Regions from separate parts of the Homo sapiens genome. Here regions 1 and 2 are each linked to region 3. Evidence: fine-mapped expression QTL. A gene starts in region 3. Each other region holds a variant in brackets. All regions are shown on one strand. Distances are between the middles of the regions. Region 1 overlaps ZDHHC20 (zDHHC palmitoyltransferase 20). Region 2 overlaps MICU2 (mitochondrial calcium uptake 2). Region 3 holds the start of ZDHHC20 (zDHHC palmitoyltransferase 20).

Evidence for each region.
Region 1: its variant is fine-mapped to the expression of ZDHHC20 in whole blood (TOPMed, PIP above 0.99).
Region 2: its variant is fine-mapped to the expression of ZDHHC20 in whole blood (INTERVAL, PIP 0.99).

Annotation. Positions count from the first base shown.
Region 1 is chr13:21,366,690-21,377,614 of GRCh38, reverse strand. It overlaps ZDHHC20 (zDHHC palmitoyltransferase 20), which reads left to right. Exons shown (of 13, transcript NM_001330059.2): 13 at 960-5,044. It overlaps LOC124903130 (nitric oxide synthase-like), which reads right to left and starts at 926. Exons shown (of 1, transcript XM_047430813.1): 1 at 1-926. The coding sequence starts at 371. The coding sequence ends at 21. It also overlaps the pseudogene MIPEPP3 and the pseudogene RNA5SP25. RefSeq lists an enhancer at 155-671. The variant TTTAG/G (reference allele first, on the strand shown) is at 6,118.
Region 2 is chr13:21,534,989-21,542,988 of GRCh38, reverse strand. MICU2 (mitochondrial calcium uptake 2) reads left to right here. Exons shown (of 12, transcript NM_152726.3): 3 at 3,301-3,332; 4 at 3,612-3,687. Among named protein-coding and RNA genes, the nearest start is that of MICU2, 65 kb to the left of the region's middle. The variant G/TTTG (reference allele first, on the strand shown) is at 4,427.
Region 3 is chr13:21,451,898-21,462,759 of GRCh38, reverse strand. ZDHHC20 (zDHHC palmitoyltransferase 20) reads left to right here and starts at 3,457. Exons shown (of 13, transcript NM_001330059.2): 1 at 3,457-3,706. The coding sequence starts at 3,589. LOC124903131 (a long non-coding RNA gene) reads right to left here and starts at 3,213. Exons shown (of 2, transcript XR_007063713.1): 1 at 2,581-3,213; 2 at 2,114-2,377. RefSeq lists a cis regulatory region at 3,216, an enhancer at 3,132-3,301 and a silencer at 3,165-3,544.

The sequences.
Region 1 (10,925 bases), 85 kb after region 3:
GCAGAGTCAGATCACAGGCACTAGGGGTGGAGGTCACGTCGGGCAGTCAGATCGCAGGCACTAGGGGTGGAGGTCATGTCGGGCAGAGTCAGATCGCAGGCACTAGGGGTGGAGGTCACGTCGGGCAGAGTCAGATCGCAGGCACTAGGGGTGGAGGTCACGTCGGGCAGAGTCAGATCACAGGCACTAGGGGTGGAGGTCACGTCGGGCAGAGTCAGATCACAGGCACTAGGGGTGGAGGTCACGTCGGGCAGAGTCAGATCGCAGGCACTAGGGGTGGAGGTCACGTCGGGCAGAGTCAGATCGCAGGCACTAGGGGTGGAGGTCACGTCGGGCAGAGTCAGATCGCAGGCACTAGGGGTGGAGGTCATGTCGGGCAGTCAGATCGCAGGCACTAGGGGTGGAGGTCACGTCGGGCCGAGTGCGCTGCAGTCAGAAGAGGAGCTGTGTCCCGCATACGGTGATTGTAAGCCAGGTCCATGCCACCAAGAGCTGGAGCTGTGGAGTAGTACTTGGTCCCCAGAAAAGCCCTCAGTCTGAGGTCCACATTTCTTCTTAATGTGGGCAGAAATAATTGCTGATGCTTGTGGTGGTTGAGAATCCTCAGCTGCAGTTCCTTTAACAGTTGCTGTGGGAAGTTTTCTACATCTTGCGCCAATCTTAGGACAGGTGTAGGTGGACCAGATGTCTTCTCAGATGATGTCCAAGTTAGCAGTCTGGGAGTACTGTAAGATTCTTCCTTTTAAAATACTCTTTTGATTGCTTCTGGGGAAGACAGTAATACCCACTCATTTACTGCTACAAAAATCTTTATTGTTATAATATTAGTAGTGTTAAGGAATTCATTTTCCATCTTGTTATATTAGTAGCTTTGTACCTTAGCCCACAGAACCATTTAGTAAATATTTTCAGAAATAAAAAATCAAGTTTTAACCAATAATTTGTTTCTTTTTTTGTAGGTGTATGAAAACATTATAGACTGGTATTTTCAATTTTCATTTGCAAGAAAATGATCAGTGGAATGAAATAACTGAAGTATAACAGAAGATATATTTTTTAAAACGGAAAGCCTTTGTACAGTTCCTGGGATTCACAGAAGCACTACTCCAGAGCAGAATGATGCCTTAATCTTAAGTGTCCATTTGTGCAGCATTGACTTAGAGCTACAAAAGTGACTTAATGTTATTCTGGAAATAATACTTACCTGTTATGAGTTGCTATAATATGAGCTGTCATCACATTTTAACATGCATATGTATTTTTTGATACCTGAATTACATTATTAGAATAAGTATCCATATACATTTTCACTCCAAAAACACAAGCTTAAAAACTTTAAAGTACATCTAGGGCAAATGGTGGCTGAAAGTGAATAATATTCAAATTACTGTTGCTTGTACTGTATAAGGAAAACTGCTTTTTTAAATTGGGTATTTGCTAATTTATAATTACTATTTTATACTTTTCAACATTTTTAATAACTTTTTTTATTGTTGGCTATAACAGAAGGATTCAGATATCTAAATATCATTTAGAACATAGAACACATTGGTCTAATTCATCGAAAGCTTAGTTATGAGCATTAATACAACCATGTAGTAGAGCAAGTGCCCAAGGTTTAAAGGGAACTTGGCAGTATAAGAAATATTTTGGGTTCTCTCTGCTATTTTATAGCTTTTTTTGTTGAACTTTCAGGGGTATGTACATGGGCAGAGAAACACAAAGGTACATGTGCTGGAGAATACTGGACACAGTAGGAAGAAGTATAGGTGTCCAGAAGAAAATCTAAGAGGAATATTGTAATTTGTTAAAAAAAATAGTTTTGAGTTTTAACAGCAGTTAGAATAAAGCATGCTGTTGACTTCACTTTCAAATTTCAGTGTAGGTAATGACTAAAAATTACTTTGAAACTTTTTACAGTAATACTGTAATAGCTTAAACAGTGATTTAAAATGCAATTTAAACTAGGCAAAAAAAACTTTAGAGTAAGTTTTCCTCCTGGCTGTCAGTTGGAAATTCTAACCTGAGTGGTCATTTTACATTCCCAGTCTCTTGAGAAGTGGATTCTACTCTTAGACGCACAGTCTGAAGTCTGACTTCCTAACGGCAACCCCTTTATGACTAGACACATTTCTCCTTTTTCCTTTTAAAATCTAAGCGACAGGAGGTGTTGCATTAACTCCAAGGAAAAGTACAGAATAAACAATGTAGAAATGTCACTCCTCATTTACACCTTTTAGACAGACAGACACACACACACACACACCCCCCCCAAAATAATTGATTGCTTCCAGTGAGTGGGTGGAGATGAATCTCAGCAGCATCTGTGAGTACTACAGGTTGGAGCTTCCTGTCTGTAAAATGGGACTGCAGGGGAGGGGGTGTTGTGAATAAGTTGGACTGGATGACTTCTAACATTCTGTGATGCCTAATTTTGCAAAATCACTTTTCATTCACCCAATAAATTTTTTTCTTCTTTTTTCCACAGAGTTTTGCTCTGTCTCCCAGGCAGGAGTGCAGTGGCGGGATCTTGGCTCGCTGCAACCTCTGCCTTCCAGGTTCAATAGAGTCTCCTGCCTCAGCCTCCCAAGTAGCTGGGATTACAGGCTCATGCCACCATGCCCGGCTAATTTTCACATTTTTAGAAGAGACGAGGTTTCACCATGTTGACCAGGCTGATCACTAACTCCTGACCTCAAATAATCCACCCACCTCAGCTTCCCAAAGTGCTGGGATTACAGGCGTGAGCCACCACGCCCCGCCCCGGTAAATTTTTTGGAGTACCTTCTGTATGCTAAATAATAAACTAGGAATAGCTCTGTCATTTCCTAGTACAGCATAAATTTTATGGTTGCTACTGTAGGTTTATAATTTGTTTATAATTTGGCCTAATTTCCATCAGCCATACTAATATTGGATTTTAAAAGGAGGCAACTTTTTTTCTTTTTGAACCAAAGGAATGAGTTAGCTTTGAAAACATAATTTGGGATATTATAGTATGGATTCTTCTACCTTTGTTTCAACTCCTTAGTAATCTTGATTCTAGCAAACTAGAATGAGATTTAAGAGATACCAATTATTGCTGGGTGTGGTGGCTCATGCCTGTAATCCCAGCACTTTGGGAGGCCAAGGCTGGCGGATCACCTGAGGTCAGGGGTTCGAGATTAGCCTGGTCAAAATGGCAAAACCCTGTCTCCACTAAAAATACAAAAAAACCCCAAAACTGTCCAGGCATGGTGGCACACGCCTGTAGTCCCAACTACTCGGGAGGTGGAGGCAGGAGAATCACTTGAACCCAGGAGGTGGAGGTCGCAGTGAGCCGAGATCGTGCCACTGCACTCCAGCCTGGGCGACGAGTGAAACTCCATCTCAAAAATATATATATATATCAATTACCAACTAAAAACATAACTCCAGTTTGGCAGTTTGCATATTATAAGGAGATAAATGTTAAAACATACTTGACTACTTTCAGAAATGTTCTCCTGGTACTTTTTGCATTTCTACATTCAGATAAAAAGATTTGCATGCACCTGGCTAACGCCAAGGGAACTTCATTTTTTTCTTCACTATTATGCACTTTCATGGTATAGTCTTTCTCAGTTCTTTTAATTTTTGTTATTTAACATCTTTAATAGCACAGCAAACATCTTTTCAGAAATTTTCAGTTAAAGCCTTTGAATTACTTATCTTTGATTTAATTTACAGCCAGCATTTTGCCACGTTCTAAATAATATTTAGCTCAACTGATTCATACGTATTAATGACCATTCTAGCAAAGGCCTACAAGTGGTGTGGGAATCAGGGAAAGGCTGCCTCTTTGGTATCTCAACTGGTATTGATTATTGCTATCAACTATTTGGGGAGAAAAAATCAAAATGAAGCCCTGTCAAATTTTAGAAGTACTATCTTTGGTCCTTCAAACACTTTGTGATGACACCTTAAGAAAAATAAAGTTGAAGTTCAGGTCTTGCCATTGCCATTACAGACAAATTAGGAGACTTGGTTTACCTGGGAACAAATTTACTTGAATATTCAGTACCTGAAACTATGCCAAACCAAAGAGCAGCTGCAGTACATTCGTTATTTTAAATGAACAAGTTTACAAAGTTTATTTTCATCTATACGTAAGGATGATTTTTTTAAAACTTTTTACATATTAGTGGTTATGATCCAATGTGTCATGAGTGAATTTAACTGTAAGGTGGTTTAAATCAAATATGCAATGTTTACTTGAATTGTATTTCTATTAGCAGATTTTGACTATGTTTACAGGACGGTTTAAATTAAGGATTATCAGGCATGTGAGATCTTTCAGTTATCTTTAAAGTAGATGTATATTAAGGGCTTAGATTTAGGATCTACATATTCTGGGCATTGAATAGGCAGTAACTTACAAATAAGTTTTGCTTACCTTTTGTTCTAGGGACTAGCACTGCTATCAATGGAAAGTATTTTTAACTAATCTGTTATTAAGAAAGTCATATTTTTGCATTTCAGCCAAAATAAAGACCGCCTGTAATAATCTGTTAGAAACAGATAATACATGTCTGAAATCCATATGTTTCATATGATCTAAACTGTATTTTCCAATTTAAATTAAAAATGTAATATAGATTCAGAAAGGTTCATATTTTTCTAATGACTTCATTCTATATTATTTTGTTAGGTTGCATAAAGAAGCAAGGAATTGTACTTGTATTAAAAGATGAAGAAAGCTATTAGGTATATTTGTACATGACTGCAAATGAGTCTATGCCCGTTTAAAAGAAAAGATGGACACTATTTTAAAGTGAGCTTTAATATGCTTTTATATAAACAAATTTGAAGTACAGTTTAGTTTGGTTGTGTTTACCTAACAAGTACCATAAGCCTTGTGTTTGTTCTTATTTGTATAATCCTAGCCTGTGACTTAATGTTGATGCTTTGCTTTGTCTTTTGGCTGGCCTAACCTACATTGACATGTACACAGAACATTTTAAAACTTTTTTTTTCAAAAGTCATAATGAATTACTTTATTAATAAACAAAGTCTTGTATTTGAAGTGTTTTCTTTGTTATAAAGTGGTATTTACCAAATGAGAGAGTAACTTATGTTTATCAACTTGAAAATCTGGTAAAATAGTGCTTGGTTAGAGAAAGAGATTGGCTAATAGTTTGGGGAAACCACTTTTAAGATAGGTATTATTTTAGTGCAACAAAATTGTTGTTTACTTAGGTTTATTCAAAACCTAAAGAGTTTAACTTAGCTTTTTACTGAACATAATTTAATTTCAGAAGTCATTTAGGATCTTGAGAACCTTCAGATCACTGTAAGTTGTTGAATTGTGATTGTTAAAATGCTGAATAATTAATAGATTTTATTATGTAGAATTATTTTATGGCATCTGTGTTCCAGTGCCCTTCCAAAGAGGCCAAGTTTGTTATTAAAGCCATTTAAAGATTTCCTGTAGCTATATTTATAAAAATTGAAGTATCTCCACCAGAAAGGAAAGATCTTGAAGACGGGTAAAAATATCAAATTGCAGGCCGGGCACGGTGGCTCATGCCTGTAATTTCAGCACTTTGGGAGGCCGAGGTGGGTGGATCACTTGACGTCAGGAGTTCGAGACCAGCCTGGCCAACATGGTGAAACCCTGTCTCTACTAAAAATATAAAAATTAGCCGGGTGTGGTGGTGGGTGCCTGTAATCCCAGCTACTTGGGAGGCTGAGGCAGGAGAATCACTTGAACCCAGGAGGCACAGGTTGCAGTGACCCGAGATCGTGCCACTGTACTCCGGCCTGGGTGACAGAGCAAGACTCTTGTCTCCAAAAAAAAAAAAAAAGTCAAATTGCTGAAATCTGCAATCTGCATATAATGTGATCCCACTTAAGAGTTTTACAGTATCCATGCTGTGTACCTGTGTGTTAAACTCAGCCTATTAATTGAGCGCCTACTCCAGGGAATGGGTGAGTAGTGGAAATAGAGCCACAGGCATCCTGCCTTTCCAGGCAGTGGTCCTGTGTGGGGTACAGGCATACAGGTACAACACCCCTCTGGGTGTTAATTGATAGAGGGAGTGAGAAATGATGGCTTATGGTTTGTCTCATTCAGCCACCGGAAGTGACAACCCTCTA[TTTAG/G]AAGATTTACCAACTATGATCCTGTGCATATAATGTGGACCAGCTGCTGTTAAGTTTTTACCGCAACCTTCTAAAATAAATGTGAATTATTTGCAACATGTAGAGCCTCTCTAGATGTGGAGAGGTTGTCAACGATGCTAAAAGTAAAATGAGAAAAACTTGTTTTCCAACCCTTTTGTTAAGATTCACTGGAAAGGAACATTGCCTTCTGGAAATCACTTACGGGAATGCAATTTTTACAGCATTTCTTGGACTCATGCCCTCGTTCGTTTCATGGGTTGAAGGAAGGGCAAAAGGCAGTGAAGGAGGGGAAAGGTTCCCGCCAGAATGTGCATTTAGAAGCATTGATCCACAGGCGTGCTATTACTCAGCACTCCTGTGGATACAATGATAAACTTCACTCAGCACTCCTGTGGATACAATGTTAAACTTAGGTCCTTCATTCAAATGCCTGTATCTAGCTTTTCTACGTGTTTAGATGTGCTCACCACATATTAAAAATAGATGTGGAGTAGTGTTTGAAAAATATTGAAAATATTGAAAAATATTTTCAATACAGTCATCTCTTGGTATCCATGGGGATACTGAGGTCTGCTTGAGCATCCTCGGATTTTGATATCCGTGGGGATTGGTCTAGGACCTCCCACAGATACCAAAATCCACAGATGCTCAAGTCCCTGATATAAAATGGCCTAGTATCAGGCACAGTGGCTCACGCCTGTAACCCCAACACTTTGGGAGGCCGAGACAGGTGAATCACTTGAGCTCAGGAGTTCAAGATCAGCCTGGGCAACATGGTGAAACCCTGCCTCTACAAAACAAAAAAATTAGCCAGGCGTGGTGGTGGACGCCTGTAGTCCCAACCATTCGGAAGGCTGAGATGGGAGGATGAATTGAGCCCGGGAGGCTGAGGCTGCAGTGAGCAGTGATGGAGTCACTGCACTCCACCCTGGGTAAGAGAGCAAGATCCTGTAAGTAAATAAAATGGTCTAGTATTTGCATGTAATCTATGCGTATCCTCCCATATACTTTAAATCACCTCTAGATTACTTATAATACCTAATATAGTGTAAATGCTATTAATACATATAGGAGTTATATTTTTTATTATTATAATTATAATTATTATTTTTGAGACAGAGTTTTGCTCTTGTTGCCCAGGCTGGAGTGCAATGGCATAATCTTGGCTCACCGCAACCTCTGCCTCCCAGGTTCAAGCAATTCTGCCTCAGCTTTCCAAGTAGCTGGGATTACAAACGTCCCACTATGCCCGGCTAATTTTGGTTTTTTTTTTTTTTTTTTTTTTTTTTTTTTTTTTTTTTTCAGTAGAGACAGCGTTTCTCCATGTTGGTCAGGCTGGTCTCGAACTCCAAACCTCAGGTGATCCGCCCGCCTCAGCCTCCCAAAGTGCTGGGATTACAGGCATGAGCCACCGCACCCGACTTTTTATTTGTATTTTTTATTGCATTGTTATTTGGGTGAAGGGTTCCCTGAATATTTTTGAGCCATGGTTGGCTGAATCTGCAGATGCAGAACCCGTGGATATAGAGCATTGCTTTAGAAAGATTGTCTCCCTAATAGAAAGTGCTAAACCACCTACAGCTGTACCGCCCTAAACATGCCTGATGTCATCTGATCTTGGAAACTAAGTAGGGTCGTGCCTGGTTAGTACTTGGATGGGAGGATGTTAAACCACTGAAAATTACATTAATCTATGCTCTTCTCTGAGTGGTTGGAGGATAGGGAGAAGGGAATTATGCACGTTTATTTATTAGAAGTATATATTCTAATTTCATATGACACATTTAATGTTGCTGTATACATAGGGTATATAAAAGTATATGTTCTAATTTCATGACAAATATCGAGTTAGCAAATATATTTTAGGATACTGTTGGTTAAATTCAGAGGAAAGTCTTTTTTGTTTGTTTGTTTTTTGAGACAGAGTTTTGGTCTTGTCACCTAGGCTGGAGTGCAATGGTGTGATCTCAGCTCATAGCAACCTCTGCATCCCAGGTTCAAGTGATTCTCCTGTCTCCCGAGTAGCTGAAACTACAGGCATCTGCCACCACACCTGGCTAATTTTTGTATTTTACTAGAGCCAGGGTTTTGCCATGTTGGCCAGGCTGGTCTCAAACTCCTGACCTCAGGTGATCCACCTGCCTTGGCCCCTCAAAGTGTTGGGATTATAGGCATGAGCCACTGCACACAGCCAGAAGAAAATCTTTTAAACATTGCTTTTTTAAAAATTTTTAAATAATGTCAACATATTTATTTGAGAACAGGTGATGAGACTGGCTAATTTTTGTATTTTTCTGGTGGAGACGGAATTTCACCATATTGCCCAGGCTGGTCTCGAACTCCTGGGCTCAAGTGATCTGCCCACCTTAGCCTCCCCAAAGTGTTAGGATTACAGGCGTGAGCCACCACGCCCAACCTTCAACATTTAGATTGAAGGGGAACGTGCAGATTTGTTACATAGGTACATTGTGTTGGTCCTGAGGTTTGGGGTACAGTTGATCCCATTGCCCAGGTAGTGAGCATAGTACTTGATAGACCTACTGTCTACTGTTGCCATCTTTATGTCCATGTTTACCCAATAAACATTGCTTTTATTTTTTATTTTTTTGAGAGGGGTCTCAGTCTGGTGCCCAGGCTGGAGTGCAGTGGCACAAACATAGCTCACTGCAGCCTCAACCTCCTGGGCTCAAGCAATCCTCCCACTACACCTTCCTGTGTAGCTAGGACCACAGATGGGCATCACCATGCCCAGCTCATTTTTTTTCTGTAGAAACAGGGGTCTCACTTTGTTGCCCAGGCTGGTCTTGAACTCCTGAGCTCAATCTTCATACCTTGGCCTTCCAAAGTGTGGGGATTACAGGTGTGAGCCACCATGCCCAGCCCCAAACATTGCTTCTAGAAATGAAATTTGTAATCTACCTCTGTAGTATAACATATCTGTACTTTGCCCATTGGGAAGTGTTCTGAACCAAAATGTCCATATTCGGATTATAGCCATTATCCCCAATGTGCACTTCATTCTACAAACAGCTGTGTGTAGAGTGGATATATTAAGTCCATATTTTAATATCTAGTACTAGGTATTTTGAAGTGAAGATGTTTGTGACAAATTTTTAAAAATGAGATGGTGAACTGGAGTTGGCCCACAGGCCATAGTTAAGCAACCCCTATGTTAGCAGCTCCATGCATTCCACACCAGTCTCTATAGTAGCAAACAGGAAGCCCTGCTCCTCCCCCACAAAAAGTGACATTTTTGACACATTTTTGGGTTGTTAAATTCAAAACCCAATGTCCTTTGGCAGCATTTGTAAAGGAGGAAGGACTCTCTCCAACTGATGGTTTTTTTTTTTTTTTTTTTTTTGAGACGGAGTCTCGCTCTTTCACCCAGGCTGGAGTGCAGTGGCGTGATCTCGGCTCACTGCAAGCTCCGCCTCCCAGGTTCATGCCATTCTCCTGCCTCAGCCTCCTGAGTAGCTGGGACTACAGGTACCCGTCACCACAGCACCTGGCTAATTTTTTTTTTTGTATTTTTAGTAGAGACGGGGTTTCACCATGTTAACCAGGATGGTCTTGATCTCCTGACCTCATGATCCGCCTGCCTCGGCCTCCCAAAGTGCTGGGATTACAGGCGTGAGCCACTGCACCAGGCCAACTGATGTTCTTAAGCCATCTCTTTGAGCTGTAACTCATTAATGAACGCTTTACTGGAGAAATCAGAAAAGCATAAAAGGAATGGTTCTATTTGTTTTTAGAAAACACTCCAGATTATACTGTAGTTCCACTTAACACAGCTGTGTTGCTAGTGGATGAAATTAAGTCCCTTGTTTTGAAACACCTTAGGCTTCTGGGTGTTCGGAGGTGATGACACATGATAAAGTACAGCTAGTAGAATAATACATGTTATAAATATCTCTAATTATTTTAACAAATGAAATACTATTTTGTAGGTGGGATTGTTCATTCAGTACTTATTCCTGGGTTTGTGAGTGGGAGGGAGAGGCAGCACTAGGGTAGGTTTCTACAGATGTGTCTTTTTTTTTTTCTCTTTCTTTTTTTCGTTTGAGATGGAGTCTCACTCTGTTGCCCAGGCTGGAGTGCAGTGGCGCAATCTTGGCTCACTGAGACCTTCACCTACCGGATTCAAGCAATTCTTCTGCATCAGCCTCCCGTGTAGCTGGGATTACAGGCATGCACCACCATGCCCGGCTAATTTTTTGTATTTTTAATAGAGACAGGGTCTCACCATGTTAGCCAGCCTGGTCTCAAACTCCTGACCTCAGGTGATCAGCCCACCTGGGCCTCCCAAAGTGCTGGTGAGCCCCTGCGCCCAGCCAGATGTGTCTTTTTAGATGACAGGTGCAGAGTGATCTGTGCCTGTATTTTATATGGCTCTGGCTGTGTACACACTCTTTTTTGAGACAGAGTCTCACTCTGTCACCCATGCTGGAGTGCAGCAGCACAATCACAGCTCACTGCAGCCTCCACCTCCTAGGCTCAAGCAATCCTCCCACCTCAGCCTCCTGAGTAGCTGGGGCCACAGGTGCACACCATCAGGCCCAGATAATTTTTTGTATTTTTTGTAGAGAAGGGGTTCCACCATGTTGCCCTCACTGGCCTTGAACTCCCGGGCTTAAGCGATCTGCCTGCCTTGGCCTACCAAAGTGCTGGGATTACAGGTGTGAGCCACTGCGCCCAGCTAACACTGTCTCATTTACCATTACATTCCTAGTGACTAAAACAGTGCCAGACACATACTAGGCGGTCAATACTTTCTGAATGAATA
Region 2 (8,000 bases), 82 kb before region 3:
GTAACCTCTACAAAATGAAATTAAGTTATGTAGTGCTGGTGTTGTTTTTGTAATTATGATTATCAAATAACTTTATTTTGGCCAGGGGCAGATTTATTGGATCTATAAGAACACTTAATGTGTATCAATGCAGCTTTACTATTTTAAGTATTAAAAGGCTCACTTACCTATAACAGGATATGCTGTATCTGGATTTTACTTCATAAATCCTCTGTAAATAGTGAAAACCACATGGTGGAATCTCTAATATGGGTGGAATCCTTTTAAAACATTTTACTTCCTGAACCAAAATTCCTAGTGCTTCAAGATCTATGCCGCCTCCTACAAAAACAAAAACCCCTAATGTGTTTTTCTTGTTTTCATATTCATACAATGAAACATTACAACCTCAATTCTAGATCTTTTTTCCTGTTTTTTGCCCCATTCTGTTATTTTCATACATAAGTGTGTGAATACATATCAAATAGCTGTGAAAATAATGAGACTGAATTTTTTATTTGTGTGAATGTGGAAATAGCCAAAGAAAGAGAGACAGGAGTGTCCCCCTACCCTACATTGAAAAAAACAAACTCAAACAAAAACAGAAGGAAAAATTAGATTATTTGCCAGATGGGTTTTATCCTTAAATAGAAAAATATTGTCCAGAAATACTTAGGTGTATTTAATATGCTCTTGCCTTGTTACTGCTGTAGGGAGAAAAAAGGTCATGGCTCCTGCTGTGCAGGTCAGACCATGGACCTCTTATTTTGCTGCTCAGCCATGAACAAGTAGTATAGAGTAAGCATCCTGGGTGAGACAACTGTCTACCAAGAAAACCCTGCCAGAGTGTTCTGGATTAGAAACACCACAACCTCTCATAATACTCAGGGAGAGGTGCATTAACTGAAGAGAAAGAGGAAGCAGGAGAGAACGGGTGTTCATTCCTAGTATCTTTGCCTTGTCTTTTTTTTTTAATCTAAAAATGAATTTTATGTAAGAGACTAGCTTCTAAACTTTTAATCAAAAAGTTAATTTCTTCATTATTTTCTAATTATTTATTCCATTTGAATTAAAAAAATTTAAAAAGATGTTTTTACAACTTAAACTGCATTAAGTATCTGGTTTTCTCCTTTTTGATGATCAAATTTTTATATACATGTCAAATAGAACTTGTAATCTACATTAAATAATGAAAAGCAGCAAAACTGCCTCTATAATCGTACCATGCATAATTATTCAGTTTTGTTAAGTGTTGAAAGTAGGCCGCAGGCTCTTTTTACTACTGTCATGGAATTCAAAGAGTCTAACACCTGTTTTTGAAAAATCTATATGAGATATGAAAATAAATCCTTCAAGGCCCATATTGTTACCTAATTCCTCTTGCCAATTTGTTTTACATGTAAAGTGGGGATATAATAATTTATCCAAAAGACAGGGACCTGGATAAGAAGACATTGTGAAATCTTTTCTGATTTGTTTATTCAGTTACTCATTCAACAAATATTTAAATGTTTAGCACTGACCTACATAAAAGTAAGACAGGTATGAAATCTGCCTCCATAGATTTTATAATTTACTTTTTACCTGTAATTCTGGTGTTATATTATTCAATCAATTCATGACTTTATTGTGGTATTTCATTCACATAGTATTGAATTTTATTGGCTTACCTGTTTGGCAGCCAGACTTCTAGCTGGAGGGAAGCAAACATTACCTTCTTTACTCACTCAGTTTCAAGTAGAAGGATTTTTTTTTTTAACAGATTTTTGAAAGACCAAAAAGGAATCTAGCCTTCAAACAGATAACACCCCTTAGAAATAATCTGATTTCTAAGAAACTCTTAGACACCATCCATTTTGCTACCTTAAATTCTTGATCCTCTTCTGCCTTCAAAATGTCAATCATTGCTTTCTAGACTACTTTAAGTTGGATGTAAGGATTAATCCGCTTTTTAAAAACAGATAAGACTAATTTTAGTTGTCTAAAAATAAAAGGGTACATGGTAATGACTATTTGTGGCGTAACTTTAGGACAAGCATAGAAATAATGATCAGTTTCTTTTTTAAGTTAATTGACTATGTAAAGATAAGTAAATACATGTATTACACAGTTTTTTGGAGTTCATTATCAGCATTATATGACTACGTATTATATACACATTCACTCACTTAGATTTGTCCAATAAATGGTAATTTTTATCTATTTGATTATCTGATACTATAACAACACCTAACAGTAGAATCTGGGGCTCTTTGTCTTTGGCTGGCACATAATAGTTTCTCCAGTGAGTAAAAATTATCCCAAAATAACAACACCTAAGCTTACAAACATAGTCATAGATGTTTCTAAAAAGTATGTAGTCATATTCACAAGTAATGTTTTGACTAATAATGTAAAAATAAAATCCTGACAGTTTACTAATACCAAATAATAGAATTTGCCCTTGTAGATTTATCGTCCAAATTAAACAACCCAAACTACAGAAAAGCCACATCTAAAAGCACTCTTTTTTAATGTGCCACCTGAATTTCTACAGACTGCGTAATTGTGCTGAAGGAACTTCATAGACAAGATAATTTTGAGAGCAATAAGTAAAGTTAGTGCTGTATATTGCTTATGTAAGAAACAAAATAAAACATTTTTCAGTTTTGTTCTGGATGTTTAAAATGATTTGAGGCTATCATCAGAGTAAGTCCTAAAAAAAAGAAACAATGTAATAGCTTTAGAATTATGGTGGATATTAGGAAAATGATGTAGGCAGTAAAGAGGGTGGCTGAAAACCTGAAAGAATTTTAAATCTCTGTTATCCAGTAGGAAATTATTAAAAATAACTACTTTAGAATGGATGGTTATGTTGGCTAGACTTTTACATTTGACTGGAGAGTTATAAGCCTAAGAGGACTTTCCAGAGTTCAAAAAAAGGAAGCTTTATAAATCATGAGTGTTTTTTTCTAAATCAATGAAAGTAAAAAGAGAGTGATTTTAATAATCATGTGAAGAAATTATGTTTGACAAGAATTAATAATATGATTCATACAACTAGGATAAATCATAGATGGTTATATACAATTTCATATGTATGAAATAGGGTGAGTGAAATTGAAAATGGATCTTGTGAAAAACTGTAGTGTCTTTGTGTTTAGTCTTAGAATTCTCTGACTCATGATTATGGCTTAAGGATATTAGCTAAAATTACAAGCCTTTGCTTTTTAAATAAATATTTAGTTGTTTGTTTTGTCTTTTAAATAATTTTCTTTCTTAGTGCAAGTTGAGTTTTACCAAAGAATATGGATACTAAATAATGTTTCTTATTTGTTGTAGGTAAAACTTCAGTCAAGAAGCTGACAAAAAAGGTAAGCATCATGTTGTGGGGGGCAGGGTTTGTTTTTGGTAAGATAGAAAATGAACTTTTGGCCGGGCACGGTGGCTCACACCTGTAATCCCAGCACTTTGGGAGGCCAAGGTGGGCGGATCACGAGGTCAGGAGATCACCATCCTGGCTAACACAGTGAAGCCCTGTGTCTACTAAAAATACAAAAAGAAATTAGCCGGCTATGGAGGTGGGCGTCTGTAGTCCCAGCTACAAAGAAAATGAACTTTTAGAAGTTTAATTTTAATATGTGTATTCAAAGGACATCGAGGATACACTGTCAGGGATCCAAACAGCTGGCTGTGGATCAACTTTTTTCAGAGACCTTGGCGATAAAGGTAATTTTGGTTTGTTGTTAAATTTCTAGTTATGTGTTTTATTTAACTGAAGTATTATTAAGGAATTAAGGTATGAGATTTGTACCATGTTATTTAATAGGTGTTTTTAAAACATGAAGTAAGGAGGTAACTTTTTCAAAGTCTTTGAGCAATTACAGATAAATTATTAAAACATCAATGTTTTAATGGATGAGGGTATGAGGCAGAGTATCTAAAATAAAAGATGAGAAGCCTTCAAGGGCATCCAGAGGAGCCACACCACTTAGGGGAGTGGACGGAAAGAGGTCATGGCAGAGTAATCAGAGAGGTAGAGGAATGCCAGGAGAGTGTTATCACAGAAGCCAAGCAGAGAAAGTGTTAAAGAAAAAGGGAACTTATCAAATGTCAAAACCAAGTAAATGTAGGGAGTTGAGTGAGCTAAGGACTGAGAAGTATCCTCTATATTTAGCAGCTGGAAGTGTTTGACATTTTAACAAGTACAGTGGTGCCTTGTTATCTATGGGGTATTGATTCCAGGACCCCCCTTGGATACCAAAATCCAAGAATGCTCAAGATCCTGATATAAAATGGCATCATATTTGCGTATAACCTACAAACATCCTCCCATTTAGTTCAAATCATCTCTAGATTACTTATAATACCTAATACAATGTAAATGCTATGTATATAGTTGTTATATTCTGTAACTCTATTTATTTGTATTGGTGTGGGTTGTTTGGGGTTTTTTTTTTTTTTTTTT[G/TTTG]AGACAGGGTCTTGCTCTGTTGCTGGGTTGGAGTGCAGTGGCGCAGTCATAGCTCCCGGCAGCGTCAAACTCTGGGACTCAAGCAGTCCTCCTGCTGCAGCCTGCTGGGACTACAGGTGTGCACCACCATACATGGCTAATTTTTTTTAATTTTAGTATAGACGGGAGTCTCACTACATTGCTCAGGCTGGACTCAAACTCCTGGGCTCAAGCAGTCCTCCTGACTTGGCCATTGAAAGTAATGGGATTACAGGCATGAGCCACCACACCAGACCTTTTTTTTTTAATATTTTTGATACACGGTTGGTTGAATGCATGGATGCGGAGGGCCAACTGTACAGATCAGTGATAGGATGAGATCTAAAGCCAAGTTGCAGAGCACTGAGACGTGAGGGCGGATATGAGAAAAGTAAACGCAGACCTCTTGAGAGACATGGTCATGAACAGAGGAGTTAGAGGGTAGTAGCTAAGGGTAGAGAAAAAAGGCCAAGAGAATATTGGTTTATTTTAGGTGGTGAGCATGTTTCTTGTTGATGAGAAGGAGAGGTGGACAATACAAAGGAAGTATGAATAGGACAAAATCCTGGAAAATAGGAAAGAAGGGATTGTCTTCAGAACAGGAGTGGAAGGATCAGCATTCCACAGGGAGGATGTCTTTCCCACTGTATCAGGAGAAAAGGGTGAACAAATGAGCATTTTATGCAGATATTTGCAAATTACTGGCAAGCAAATGAGGGAGGTGTTTTGGAGTAGCCTTGATTTTCTTTATAAAATAGGATTTAGGGTGAGGTGCGGTGGCTCACGCCTGTAATCCCAGCACTTTGGGAGGCCATTGAGGCCGAGGCAGCCCGATCACCTGAGGTACAGAGTTTGAGACCAGCCTGGCCAACATGGGGAAACCCTGTCTCTACTAAAAACACAAAAAATTAGCCAGGCATGGTGGCGGGTGCCTGTAATCCCAGCTACTCAGGAGGCTGAGGCAGTAGAATCGCTTGAACCTGGGAGGCAGAGGTTGCAGTGAGCCGAGATCATGCCATTACACTCCAGCCTGGGCAACAAGAGTGAAACTCTGTCTCAAAAAAAAAAAAAAAAAGAAAGAAAGAAAATGTTGGATATAGTAGGTCTGAGCTTTATGGAGAAAGAAGGTTTGAAGTAGCTTCTGGGATATGGAAAAAGAACTGATGAGAGAAACAGACTTCTGGGAATCCTTCAAGGACTAGAAGAGAACATAGATTATGAAAGAATGAGTCATTGATCAGTGTAGTTGTAGATTAGAATAGTTGGACAGTTAGGATTTGCTAGGCAGAAGAATGGAGGAAGTCACGGCCTAGGGAGTTAACAGTGTTAGGAGCAAGAGAGGTTTTAACTAATGAGCCATGGAGTTTAAGCAGAGACAATAGAGAATAAAGTAAAATAGGAAGAAAAATTTAAAAAGAAAGTAGGAAAGTCAAGAGGGAAAAAAATCCCCTTTTCATGATAAACTCCAGGAATAGAAAAAAGCCTAGAGAGAAAGCTGCCAGTGAGGTTGAAAACAGATGTAGTGGATGTCCAAGAGCAGAAAACAACCATGGTCATAGAGTAGGTGTCTGAATTTACAGTTTCTAAGCTGAAGCACTTGCAGGTGATTTCAGGGTTCAGGGAGTGACCGTAGAAATAGACAGCTAAAATAGAAGTTGGCATAGTTAATTTAGTGAACCTTATCAAGGATCTGAGAGATGGACCACTCTTATTTTATAAGTGTAGAAAAAGTGTTCACCTGAGATTGGTGATAAATTAATTATTGTTTCCTGTTGTCTAAAGAAGGAATTGGAGAATTAAGAAACAAATGTAATTTCTAAATCAGTGGTTTATAACCTTTCATTGAATGCAGCAGAGCTTTTACAGTTATCTCAAGAGATTTACAACATTCTCAAATCAACATTAATTTTATGGCTGAGTGCATTAGCTCACGCTTGTAATCCCAGCACTTTGGGAGGCTGAAGCAAGAGGATAGCTTGAGCCCAGGAGTTCAAGACCAGTCTGGGCAGTATAGCAAGTCTCTATCTCTACAAATAATGTAAAAGAAAAATTAGCCAGGCGTGGTGATGCACACCTGTAGTCCCAGCTACTTGGGAGGGTGAGGTGACAGGATCGCTTGAGCTCGAGAGGTTGAGGTTGCAATTGCAGTGAGCTGTGTGTGGTCACCTGGGCAACAGAGCAAGACCGTGTCTCAAAAAAAAAAAAATTTAGTTTTAAATTGAGAATAAGTTTATCATATAACACTCCATGGAGAAGAAAAATATGACAAAGGTATAATAACTCCATAAAATCAATATTAATCAGTTATTGTTTATTGATAAATATCTATTTCTGTACATTCTGTATCAATATTTAGTGGACTTTCATTATATTCTGTGAGTATTAGTTCCTTATACTAAACTGTCTACTTATCTTTATACCCACTTCACCCCACCCTTTACCAATTCCTTCCAGTCATAGCACCAGAACATCCCTATAGACTTTGAGGTTAACAAGCTCCTAAATTTTTTATAGTGGGAATTTACTGGAATGTAGTATATGGTTAGTGAACAAAAGTGTGTGTTTTGAAGTTGACAGACTTAAATTCAAATTTTTCCTAGTTTTATGACCCGGGGAAATTACTTAATCTCTTTCATCCTCACTTTCATCACCTTTTAAAATAAGATAGTAATGCCTTCCTTATGGGATTGTTGAAAGAATTTAATAAAATAAGATATTTTAAACATTTATAGTATCTGGTATGTAGCCTTAAAAAATATTAAGAACATGGGTTTTAAGCCTGGTTTAGATTCCTAGCTCTATTAGCTGTGTAACCTTGGGCAAGTTGGTTTTAGTTTTCTTGCTGTGTGTCTGGTACATTTTAAGTTTATAATTGGTAATATTGCTATATTTTTTTGTAAGATTTAATATTAACTGAGCCTTAGCCTCTTAATGAGTTTGTAAATAAATGGTATTTTTAAAATCATAGTTAATAAATATTTTGTAAGGTTTTACTTTAGGAAATTACTAATTTGGCATTTTAAAGTAGATTTTAAGCAAGATGTTTAAATTTCAAGTACCAATATTTAGATCAGAGCTATGGCTTTGAGGTACCTTTCCATAATATAGACTTTTCTGGAAGCATTTTGAGACTCTTAAGAAAGATATTTACCAGTTGTGAAAACTCAGATAATCTCTGTGGATATAAACTGAGTTATCTTATGATTATTTGATGTTTTTTTCCTGAAGTAAGGAAGGCTGGGGAGGGTTCTATAATAATTTTGATCTAAAGGCAGAATATGAGAGCCAGAGTAGATTAATTCAGCTTTTGTGTAAAACTCTACATAAATATAATGTGATTTTAGAAATTCTATTAAAAAGTGTTTTCAAGAAAAATGAGTAAAATAAAAACTGAAGAGAGAAAATTTAAATCATCTTAAGGAAAAAAAAATTGAGAGATAAGAGATTAATCTTCAAAAACTGAAAAGACAACCCCATTTCAAAACCTTAGAAGCATACCGTGCTTCTGAAAAGAAGTACCTGTACAGCTTCATTGCTGCATTCACAGTCCAGACTC
Region 3 (10,862 bases):
AGGACATAGATCAGAAATATTCTCTAGATCCCACATAAATCACCTTAGAATATGTGGCAGTCATTTAGAAATCAGAAACTGGTCGGGCACGGTGGCTCACAAAAAATACAAAAAATTAGCTGGGCGTGGTTGTGTGTGCCTGTAATCCCAGCTACTGGGGAGGCTGAGGCAGGAGAATCGCTTGAACCAGGGAGTCGGAGGTTGCAGGGAGCTGAGATTGCACCACTGCACTCCAGCCTGGCAACACAGCAAGACTCTGTCTCAAAAAAAAAAAAAAGAAAAAGAAAAAAAAGAAATCACAAGCTAATGTAATCTGGTTGGCAACGCCAGAAGTTAGGAGGAGTAACTGGATAACAATAGAAAACTTTAAATATTTGTTCAACAATTTCTTACTAAATATTTCCTACTGCAAGTCACTGTGGATGTGCAAGAAATACTTTCTACCTTCTAGAACCTTACAAGGTAGTAGGCAAGATCACATATTTCAATGAGTATCAAAACTATTGGCTGAGCGAGGTGGCTTAGGCCTGTAATCCCAGCACTTTGGAAGGCCGAGGCAGGCAAATCACTTGACTCCAAAAGTTTGAGACCAGCCTGGCCAACATGGGGAAACCCCATCTCTAGCAAAAATACAAAATGCAGGCCTCACGTGGTGGTGCACGCCTGTAATCCCAGCTACTCGGGAGGCTGAGGCATGAGAATCACTTGAAGCTGGGAGGTGGAGGTTGCAGTGAGCCAAGATCACGTGACCGCACTCCAACCTGGGTGACAGAGCAAGACTCTACTGAAAAAAAAAAAAAAAAGAATGTGGCCTTATTTGGAAGTGGGCCTGTTGTAGATGTAATTAGTTAAGATGAGGCCATACTAGAGTAGGGTAGGCCCTTAACCCAATATAAGGGGAGAGACAGGAAAGGAGAATGCCACCTGAGGATAGCGGTAGATATTGGGGTGATGCCACTGCCACTGCAGGTCAAGGGATGCCATGGACTAATGGTCACCACCAAAGGCTAGGAAGAAGCAAAGAAGAATTCTCCCCTACAAGTTTCAGAGGGCACATGGCTGTGTTAGGTCATTCTTGCACTGATATAAAGGAATACCTGAGACTGGGTAATTTATAAAGAAAAGTGGATTAATTGGCCCACAGCTCTCCAGGCTGTACAGAAAGTATGGGGTCAGCATATGCTTCTGGTGAGGCCTCAAGAAGCTTCCAATCATCAGTTGGAGACAACATTGGAGACAACAGCAACAGGAAGGTCCCTCTCACCTTCCTCTCGCTCTTCTCCCCTGAAGCAGGCCATAGCACTAGCAAAAGCGTCTCAGGCCTTCCCCTGAAGGCAGACCTAAGACTGTTATTCAAGAGGTGCCCTCCCTCTACCCAGACAAAGGAACATCCTTATCTCTGAAGACACAGGACCACAGAGATAGACTTCTGCCTTCTCGGCAGAAGGCAAAGGGGAGCCAGCATGTCACATGGCAAGAGAGGGGGCAAGAGAGAGAGTGGGGGAAGGATCAGGCTCTTTTAAATAACCAGATCTCATGTGAACTACTAGAGAAAGAACCCCTCATCCAAGGGGATGGCACTAAACCATTCATGAGGGATCCACCCTAATGATCCAATACCTCCCACCAGGTCCCACCTCCAACACTGGGATCACATTTCAACATGGGATTTGGAGGGGACAAACATCCAAACCATATCCAATATCCTTGCCAACACTTTGATTTGGGACACCTACCCTCCTAAACTGTGAGACAACCAATTTCTATTATTCCCCAGTTTTGTGGTACTTTGTTATAGTCACCCTAGGAAACGAATGTGACAGTTTTATAGTTAGGTTATAAACAAAATGTCGTGAAAGATCATTTCTAGCAGCCCTGGAGCTTGTAAAGGACATGGCTTTGTGCTGAGCTCTAGCAGCATGGTTTTGGTACGTAGAGATGACATAGAGGAGAAACGGCTTTATGTTCTTCCATGTCCATCCGAATTCTATGTTGAGGTCTAACCCTCCTAAGCAGCCTCTCTGGAAAACTAGTTGAACTTGAACCTAAACCTACTGTCAACTAGGCCACTAACTAATATGACTTTTAAGGCACAAAATCAGGGAGAACAGAATCTTTTATACATGCTTTATTACTCAAGCAGCAGTGTGCAGTGATTAAATACTTACTCGCTTTTACTACATTTCTCTGACACAGCAAAGGGTGACGTCTTCTTCATGGAGACTTTAGTGAGCAGTAGCTAATTTAAAGCTCAGTGTAGGCCGGTCGTGGTGGCTCACACCTGTAATCTCAGCACTTCTTTGGGAGGTGGAGGCGGAGAGGGGTTGGGATTCCTTGAGCCTTGGAGTTCAGGGCCAGCATGGCAACAGGGCGAAACCTAGTTTTTACAGAAAATACAAACATCAGCTGGGCATGGTGGCGGGCCTGTAGTCCCTGCTACTCTGCAGGCTGAAGCAGGAGGAGTGCTTTAGCAGGGAGGTCGAGGCTTAAATGAGCCCAGGTCGTGCCACTGCACTCCAGCTTGGGCGACAGAGCGAGAAGACCCTGTTTCAAAAAACAAACACAAAAATTCATTCTAACCAAAACTGAATGCTAGTAGCAGGAACTGGTATGAAGATTGCGGTCTGGAATCCCTTCTAATGCGTCTGACCTTGCATTGTGAAGTCTTCACAGTGATGCTTCTGGGTTCTATATGATTATCGTCATTGCTTAGCAACCTCTAGTTGTAAATAAATTCTTTAAATTTCCTTAGTCGTTTGCGGGGCAAGGAGAGGGTCATTTACATGCCCTTTCCTTCTCGCTACTCAATCTTAAATTTGGGTTACGAATCAAACTGATGGACCCTACATGGCTTCTACCCGAAATTACAGGTATCTACCGTTCCATCTTCAAGAAAGGGAGGGGTTCCGCCAAGATGGACGAACATAAAAATCACAGGAGGAGCCTTCTAACAATGTGCATTCTTCGCACACTGAGTGGGGAATGGCCTTGTCATGTTTGAAACAGTGCCCCAACTACTCAATGTCCCAGGAACCCCAGTGGAGCGAGTTCTGTACACAGAGAGGGCCAAGATCCACAAATCAGCTAAGGAATCATTTCCATAGTCTCCCTCCCCTATTGAGTCTCGATCCACAAAAGCTATCCCCTGTCCCTCTCATCCATCAAGGGCGTGTTTTTCGCCTCTCCTTCCCCGGCCTCCCGCGTCCGCCCAGCCTGTCCGCATCCAGCCCCGCCACGCCCCATGGGCGGTCCCGAGCTGCGGCCCCGCCCCCTCACCGCCTCCCCGGCCGCGGAAACCCCGCCCCAACGACGCGGAGACCGGGGGCGGCCCGCGGCCCGCGGCGGGCGGGCTGGCGGGGACGGACGCGGGGGGAGGGGGGCGACGGGATGTGGGGTGGGGGCGGGGCCTGGCTGGGCGCCGGGACGGGAGGAGTCCCGGCGGCGCCTCGGACTTTTGCTCCCACAAGTCCTGCCTCGGAGGCGGGGGAGCTGGACCAGCAGCCGCCTGGAGCGTCCGAGTCACCGTCGCCGGGGCTCCCGCGCTCCCCAGAACGGTGGGACGCGGGGCTCGGCAGCCGCCAGCGGAACATGGCGCCCTGGACGCTGTGGCGCTGCTGCCAGCGCGTCGTGGGCTGGGTGCCGGTGCTCTTCATCACCTTCGTGGTCGTCTGGTCCTACTACGCGTACGTGGTGGAGCTCTGCGTGTGTGAGTACCGTCCCCGGGGACTGCGGCGGGGCGCGGGCCGCGGCTAGGGCGCGAGATAGGCCTCTGCGCCCCACACCCGCCGCCTTTCTGGAGCCAGCGCCGGACGCCGGGCGTCCGGCCCCGAACGCGCTCGGAAGCGCCGAGGTTGCTGCACCCGCCGCTTTGTTCAATCCTGCGGCGCGGCCTTGGGGCGACCTGGGGCTCCTGAAGCCTTGCGGCGGCTTCCCGGGTGCAGGTCTGGCCCAGGGAGGCCCCAAGAGCTTCCTGGTTCCCGCCGACACCGGGGGTCTGCATCCTTCTGGGAAGGAACGTGCAGAACGGGAGTAGTCGAGCTTCTTAGAAGGTTTAGGTTGTGTTTGTGGCTTTTTTGGCTTTTGTTCATTTTTTTTAAAAAACCAAATCTGTTCCTTCTGGATTGTTTTTGTTCAAACTGCGCGAGAAGAAACGCCTGTTACCTGTAGAGCCGGCTGTGGCGGGTTGGGGGAAGGGAGGTGTGTCTTTTGGTGGCCTCGGGCTGGAGGCGGGTCAGACCTGGAGGACGAGTAAGCTCCCACTTTTGATTTTTGGTGGTACTCGACTCATTGTAAAATTCGTTTATTTCTACTCTGAATCCAGCCGGCTTTTGCAGAAGGTTAAGACAGAAAGAATGGGTGGGAGGAGACATAACCTGATTATTTTTTTCTTGGCTGATTATTAAGGAGGCTTATATTTCTTATACTCATATTTTGGCGTGTTAATTTTCGTTACTTCCATTTTCCTGATAAGTTCTTAGCACAAAATTCTCATCTGATTCCCTGGAAAAAAGGAGTAGCATTGCAGTATACTTCAAGGATTTAACCTACTGGCTTGAATTGGTTGCCTTTAAGATTGAAGGAAATTGGTTGTCATTAATCAAAAACACTGTTTAGGGGTGACTGCTACATTTGTGATATTGGGCAATTTCTCCAACATTGTTTTGTCTTAAGTAAATTGTTCTTAGGCTTTGAGTATGTGGGTATTTTACACTTAAACTGGCCTCAACTAGGGTGTTCTGTATACATCTGCTGCCTATATCAATTTTTTATGAAAACCTAGGACCAAATGGTAAGTGGTGTTTGTAAACGTTATTGTTATTCCAGAATGTTCTACTCTTAGTCCTTAGACTGAATCTACCATTTTATGAAGGACTGTTAAGTGTTCTTTGAATAACGAACCACATCAGCTAGAAACTAATGTTATGAATGAGAAGAATCTGTACCACCCACTCTTGAAAGTGGCAGAATCAAGACTTCAATTATGTTTGGATTTGTACAGCTTTCAACCAAGTATTTGGTTAAAACCCTAGTTCTATACATGGAAGAGAATGCTTTGGCTCAGAAAATTTATAAGTTTTGAAATTAAAACATCCAGTTTTAAAATTACTTTGTACCTATAGAACGTTTAATTTTGGGACGACTATCCCTGCAGGTAGGCCCAGAATAAATTAGTTGTGGAATACATTTCCAAATAATATTAATCTTTTCAATATCATTGTTTAGTCTCATGCTTTTGGATACCAGAATGTTTACTAAAAATGATGTTTGAGTCAATTAAAATTACTAGATTTTAATATTTCTGGGAGCTACTTCCAGAAAGTGGTAGTGATCATAGGATTCTCATCAACTTATGATGATACCTCCTTTATCTTCTTATTTACTCTGAAGTGGGCATTTATTCTAAAAGTTATGTCATTCCTATTCTGTCAGAAGATTATTCCTACCGTATTTTAATTCCCGTAGTGGTTTTGAAGTAAAGCTGAAGGAACACTAAAAATGTGCATTTATGTTGAGATTCCACAGCTTAACCTGTAGATGGTTTTTGTCAAAAATATTAAGAAATGAGATCAAACAGTGCTGTGAAAAGTCTTAAATTGCTTCTGATTTCTTTCACCACTTCAAATAAAGAAGGAGAAATGAACATGAATTGAGAAGTGCCATGTGCTAGTGGGCATAGAGGGGACATTTCATTCACCCTCTCCTTTAATTCTTTCAGTATGTCACAGCATAGGTATCTCTACAGGTGGAGGACGTGAGACTGAGCGAATAGGTCCTTTTGGTTAGGTCACACAATTGATTATTGGAATGTGACCCACATCTTTCCGTTCTTTCATATAACTTCAGTAAGCTATGAGGGTCAATGGAACTGTAATTGTTTGGTCCATAATGGTGTGGGGGGATAAAGGGGTTGGCATATTTTTGGAGATCACTTAGTTAGGCTTGAGGCCCATTCTGTAGAGATTATACCCTACAATTTCATTAAGTTAAAACATTCTATAACTATGGCCTGATGCTTGGCAGAATCTTAAAATATTTGGTGGTGAAAGGTCTTATGTAGAGGCTGTATTAACTTCTGAGTTATCTCATTTTAACTAGAGAGAATTTGGGAGGTCTGCAGTGTCACTGGAGTATAAAATAGTTGAGCATAAAAGTGCATTTACTCATATTAAAACTATCCTTTAAACTACTTGTATGTATTTGTTTTCATAAGTACTGACCCTCCCACTGAAATATGTATAGATATATTACTTTATAGGAGGACTTAAATGGAGGGAAGTGTGAGTTTTACTTAAAAGTGCTGTTTTAATACTTTTATAGGATATTCTTTTTATTTATATATGTATTTTTTGAGCCAGAGTTTCACTCTTGTTGCCCAGGCTGGAGTGCAATGATGCGATCTTGGCTCACTGCAACCTCTGCCTCCTGGGTTCAAGTGACTCTCCTGCCTCAGCCTCCCAAGTAGCTGGGATTACAGGTGCCCGCCACCATGCCCAGCTAATTTTTTTTGTATTTTTAGTAGAGACGGGGGTTTCACCTTGTTGGTCAGGCTGGTCTCAAACTCCTGACCTCAGGCAATCCACCCACCTTGGCCTCCCAAAGTGCTGGGATTACAGGCATGAGGCATTGTGCCCGGCCTATAGGATATTCTTAGATTCTGGTATTCTTTATCAAACTAGGAGGAGAAGATCATAATTATATCTTTACATGTATGTATTAATTCATTTAATCTTAATAATGATCCCCATAAGGTTAAGTAATTTGTCCACGGTTATAGAGCCAGTAAGTAGCATGGTAAGAATTGGAATTCAAGGGGTTTGGCTCCAAAGCCCATGCTGTTAACCACTATACAATTAATGACTAATCTATTTGGTGTCCAGATCTGGACACTCAGGGCAGATTTCAGTCCTGTATATGATATATTTATATAAAGTACTTTTCTCCTAAAAGGCAGCTGCAGAAGATTCCTAAATATCTCAGACAATAAAAATACCTGGCCCACAGTTGGCTGTAAGTTGAACAAATTGTTGATTACCAAGAGGCCCTCATTCCATCTTACCCTCTGTAACTTGCTAATTGTGTAATTAGACACACACACACACACACACACACACACACACACACACACCACTTCACTGGGAGTAATACTGAGGACAAAATTGAGGAAGAGGGTAATGCATGTAAAACGGCCATCTCACAGGAGTGATAAGCTGAGAAGCGAAGATTAAGTAATTAGTAATATTGGTCCTTGATTTTAAATTAGACTGAAATTCTCGTATGATTTTTTTTCCCCAGGGTTGATATTTAAAGTACGAATGGATTGAATAACTTCTTCTCTTTGGTCAAGGTGGTTATTTTTGAGGCAAGTGCTAATTCTGGTTCCCAAGGTTTTATCAGAATATCTTGTTGTTCAGGTCATCTTGTTAGTGGATGTGTACCTCTTCTTTGGCATGTAGAGAATCTTAGAACTTAAAGAGATTTTAAAGATAATCTCATTCAGTCCCTTTACTTCTGATGAAACTATTGCTCAAAAGAGCTATGTTGGCCAGGCGTGGTGGCTCACACCTGTAATCCCAGCGCTTTGGGAGGCCAAGGCAGGCGGATCACGAGGTCAGGAGATCGAAACCATCCTGGCTAACACGGTGAAACCCCATCTCTCTAAAAATACAAAAAATTAGCCGAGTGTGGTGGCGGGTGCCTGTAGTCCCAGCTACTCGGGAGGCTGAGGCAGGAGAATGGCATGAACCTGGGAGGCGGAGCTTGCAGTGAGCAGAGATTGCACCCCTGCACTCCAGCCTGGGCGACAGAGCGAGACTCTGTCTCAAAAACGAACCAACAAACCAACAAACAAACAAACAAAAGAGCTATGTTGTTTGTTCAAGGACAGGTATACCTTTTATATTTTTTTCAGACAAATTTGTGGAGTGGACTCTAACCTTTGAGTCTGTATTAAATATTTACTTGTGTCTCCTGCATAACTTCTTCAAATTTAGAGGCAGATTAAGATAAATAACTTAAGCACTATCATTGTACATGCTAGCTTGACACTGTTGATTCTGAAGTATTTTATTGATATTGAAAGAACCAGTTTTCTATTTCATTGATTTTTCTCTTTTCTGTTTTGTTGTTTTCCTGTCTGATCTTTACTATTTCCTTTCTTTTACTTTGGGTTTAATATGCTCTTTTTCTAGATTAATGTGGAAACCAAGGTCATTGATTTGAGCCCTTTCTTAGGTAGGTAGTCCTATAAATTTACCTCCAAATACTGCTTTAGTTTTATTCTATCAATTTTGATATGTTGTGTTGTGGTTGTCATTCAATTCAAATTATTTTCTTGGGCTGGGCACAGTGGCTCACCTCTGTACTACCAGCACTTTGGGAGGCTTGATGAAACCTCATCTTTTTGTTTGTTTGTTTTTGTTTTTGTTTTTGTTTTGAGATGGAGTCTCATTTTGTTGCCCAAGCTTCAGTGCAATGTGGCGATCTTGGCTCACTGCAACCTCCTCCTCCTGGGTTCAAGCAATTCTCCTGCCTCAGCCTCTTGAGTAGCTGGGATTATAGGCATGTGCCACCACGCCCGGCTAATTTTTGTATTTTTAGTAGAGATGGGGTTTTGCCATGTTGGCCAGGGTGGTCTTCAACTCCTGACCTCAAGCGATCCACCCACCTCGGCCTCCCAAAGTGCTGGGATTACGGGTGTGAGCCACCATGCCTGCCAAAACTCCATCTCTACAAAAAATACAAAAAATTAGATGGGCATGGTGGCTTGTGTCTGAAGTCCAGCCTACTCAGGAGGCTGAGACGGGAGAATACCATGAGCCCAGGAGTTCAAGGCTGCGTTGAGCCATGATTGTGCCATTGCACTCCAGCCTGGGTTACAGAGCAAGACCCTTTCCCAAAGAACAAACAAATCCTTTTATTTTGTTTTGTTTTAAGACAGTTTTGCTCTGTTGCCCAGGCTGGAGTGCAATGGCGCAATCTCGGCTCACTGCAGCTTCCACCCTTCAAAATTCAAATTATTTTCTAATTTCACTTTTGGTTTGATCTTTGACCCCATGGATTTAGTTTCCATTTATTTGGGGGTTTTCCAGATATCTTTCTGTTATTGATTTCAAATTTCCTTGTGGTCAGAGAACATACTTTGTATGACTTAAATCCTTTAAAATGTATTCAGGCTTGTTTTATAGCCCAGAATGTGGTCTGTCTGAGCTGTGTTCCATGTGTGCTTACGAAAAATATGTCTGTACTCAGCAATGTATTGTGCTGTTTGTTGCTGGGTGGAGTATTCTGTTATGTCATAATGCTCCATAAATGTCAGTTAAGGCAAGTTGGTAGTGTTATTCAAGTCCTCTATTTTCTTGCTTTCCTGTTTGTTCTCTCAGTTATTAAGAGAGGTATAACTATAATTGTGATTTATTTCTCCTTGTAGTTCTATCAGTTTTTGCCTCGTATTTTACATCTGTGTAATTAGGTGCATAAAACATTTAGGATTGCAATATCCTATTGACCAGTTGGCTCACTTAACATTATGAAGTGACTTTATTACCCCTGGTGATATTGTTTACTCTGAAATCTGCTTTGGCAGATATTAACATGGGCACTAATCTTTCTTTTAATTATTGTGAGCATGATGTATCTTTCTCTGTCCTTTTAATGTGTATGTGTCTTATATTTAAATTGTAATTCTCGTAAAGAGCATATATTTGGGTCTTTTAAAATCCAACCTGAAAATCTCTGCCTTTTAATAGGGGGTTTTGACCATCTACATTTAATGTGATTATTGATATAGGCTTAAGTCTATCATTTGCTCTTTTGTTTTATTGTCTGTCCTCTTCTTTGTTCCATTTTCTCCTTCTTTGACCTTCTTTTGAATTAATTGATCTTTACAATTTTTTTAATTTTGATTTTTAAAAATGATTCTATCTCCTTATTGGCATATTACTAGTAATTCTTTTTGTTACTTTATTGATTGCTTTAGGGCTTATAACATGTGTCTTTGAGTTATCACAGTCTACCTTCAAGTTACGTACTGTTTCATATATAATACCTTATAAAAGTATACTTCTATCTCTTCCATCTTGGCCTTTATGCTATTATGGTGCATTTTATATGTTGTAAACCTCACACTGTATTGCTACTATGTTTAAACAGTTGATTATATTAATAGTTTTTAAAGATTTAGGTTTAAAAAACCCAAAATATATGTATTTATTCCTATAGTTACCATTTCTAGTTCTCTTCATTCCTTTTTGTAAATCCATCTAGTGTCATTTCCTTCTGCCTGAAGGGCCTCTTTTAACGTTTATTGTAGTGCAAGTCAGCTGGACTGAATCATTTCAGTTTTTGTATGTTTGTAAAAGTTTTAATTTTGCCTTTAGTTTTTAAAGACAACTTGATCGAGACATAGTTTGCATGTCATAAAATTCACTAATTTAAGATGTACAATGCAGTTATTTTTAGTAAATTTGCCAAGTTTTGCAGTCATCACAACAATCCGTTTTTTGAAAATTTCTGTCGCACATTAAGATCCCTCATGCCCATTTACAGTTAATCCTTCTTCCCACCCCCAGCCCAAGGCAACCACTAATCCATGTTGTCTCCAAATGCCTTTTCTGAACATCCCATATAACTGGAATAATACATGCTTGCAACACATATACTAAAATTGGAAGAGTACAGAGAAGATTAGCATAAAAACCAAGAAAAATTTAAAAAGGGAAAAAAATAAATGGAATCATACAATAAGTGTTTTTTTGTTTTTTTTTTGGAGATGGAACTTCACTCTTGTTGCCCAGGGTGGAGTGCAATAGTGTGATCTCGGCTCATTGCAACCTCCGCCTCCTGAGTTCAAACGATTCTCCTGC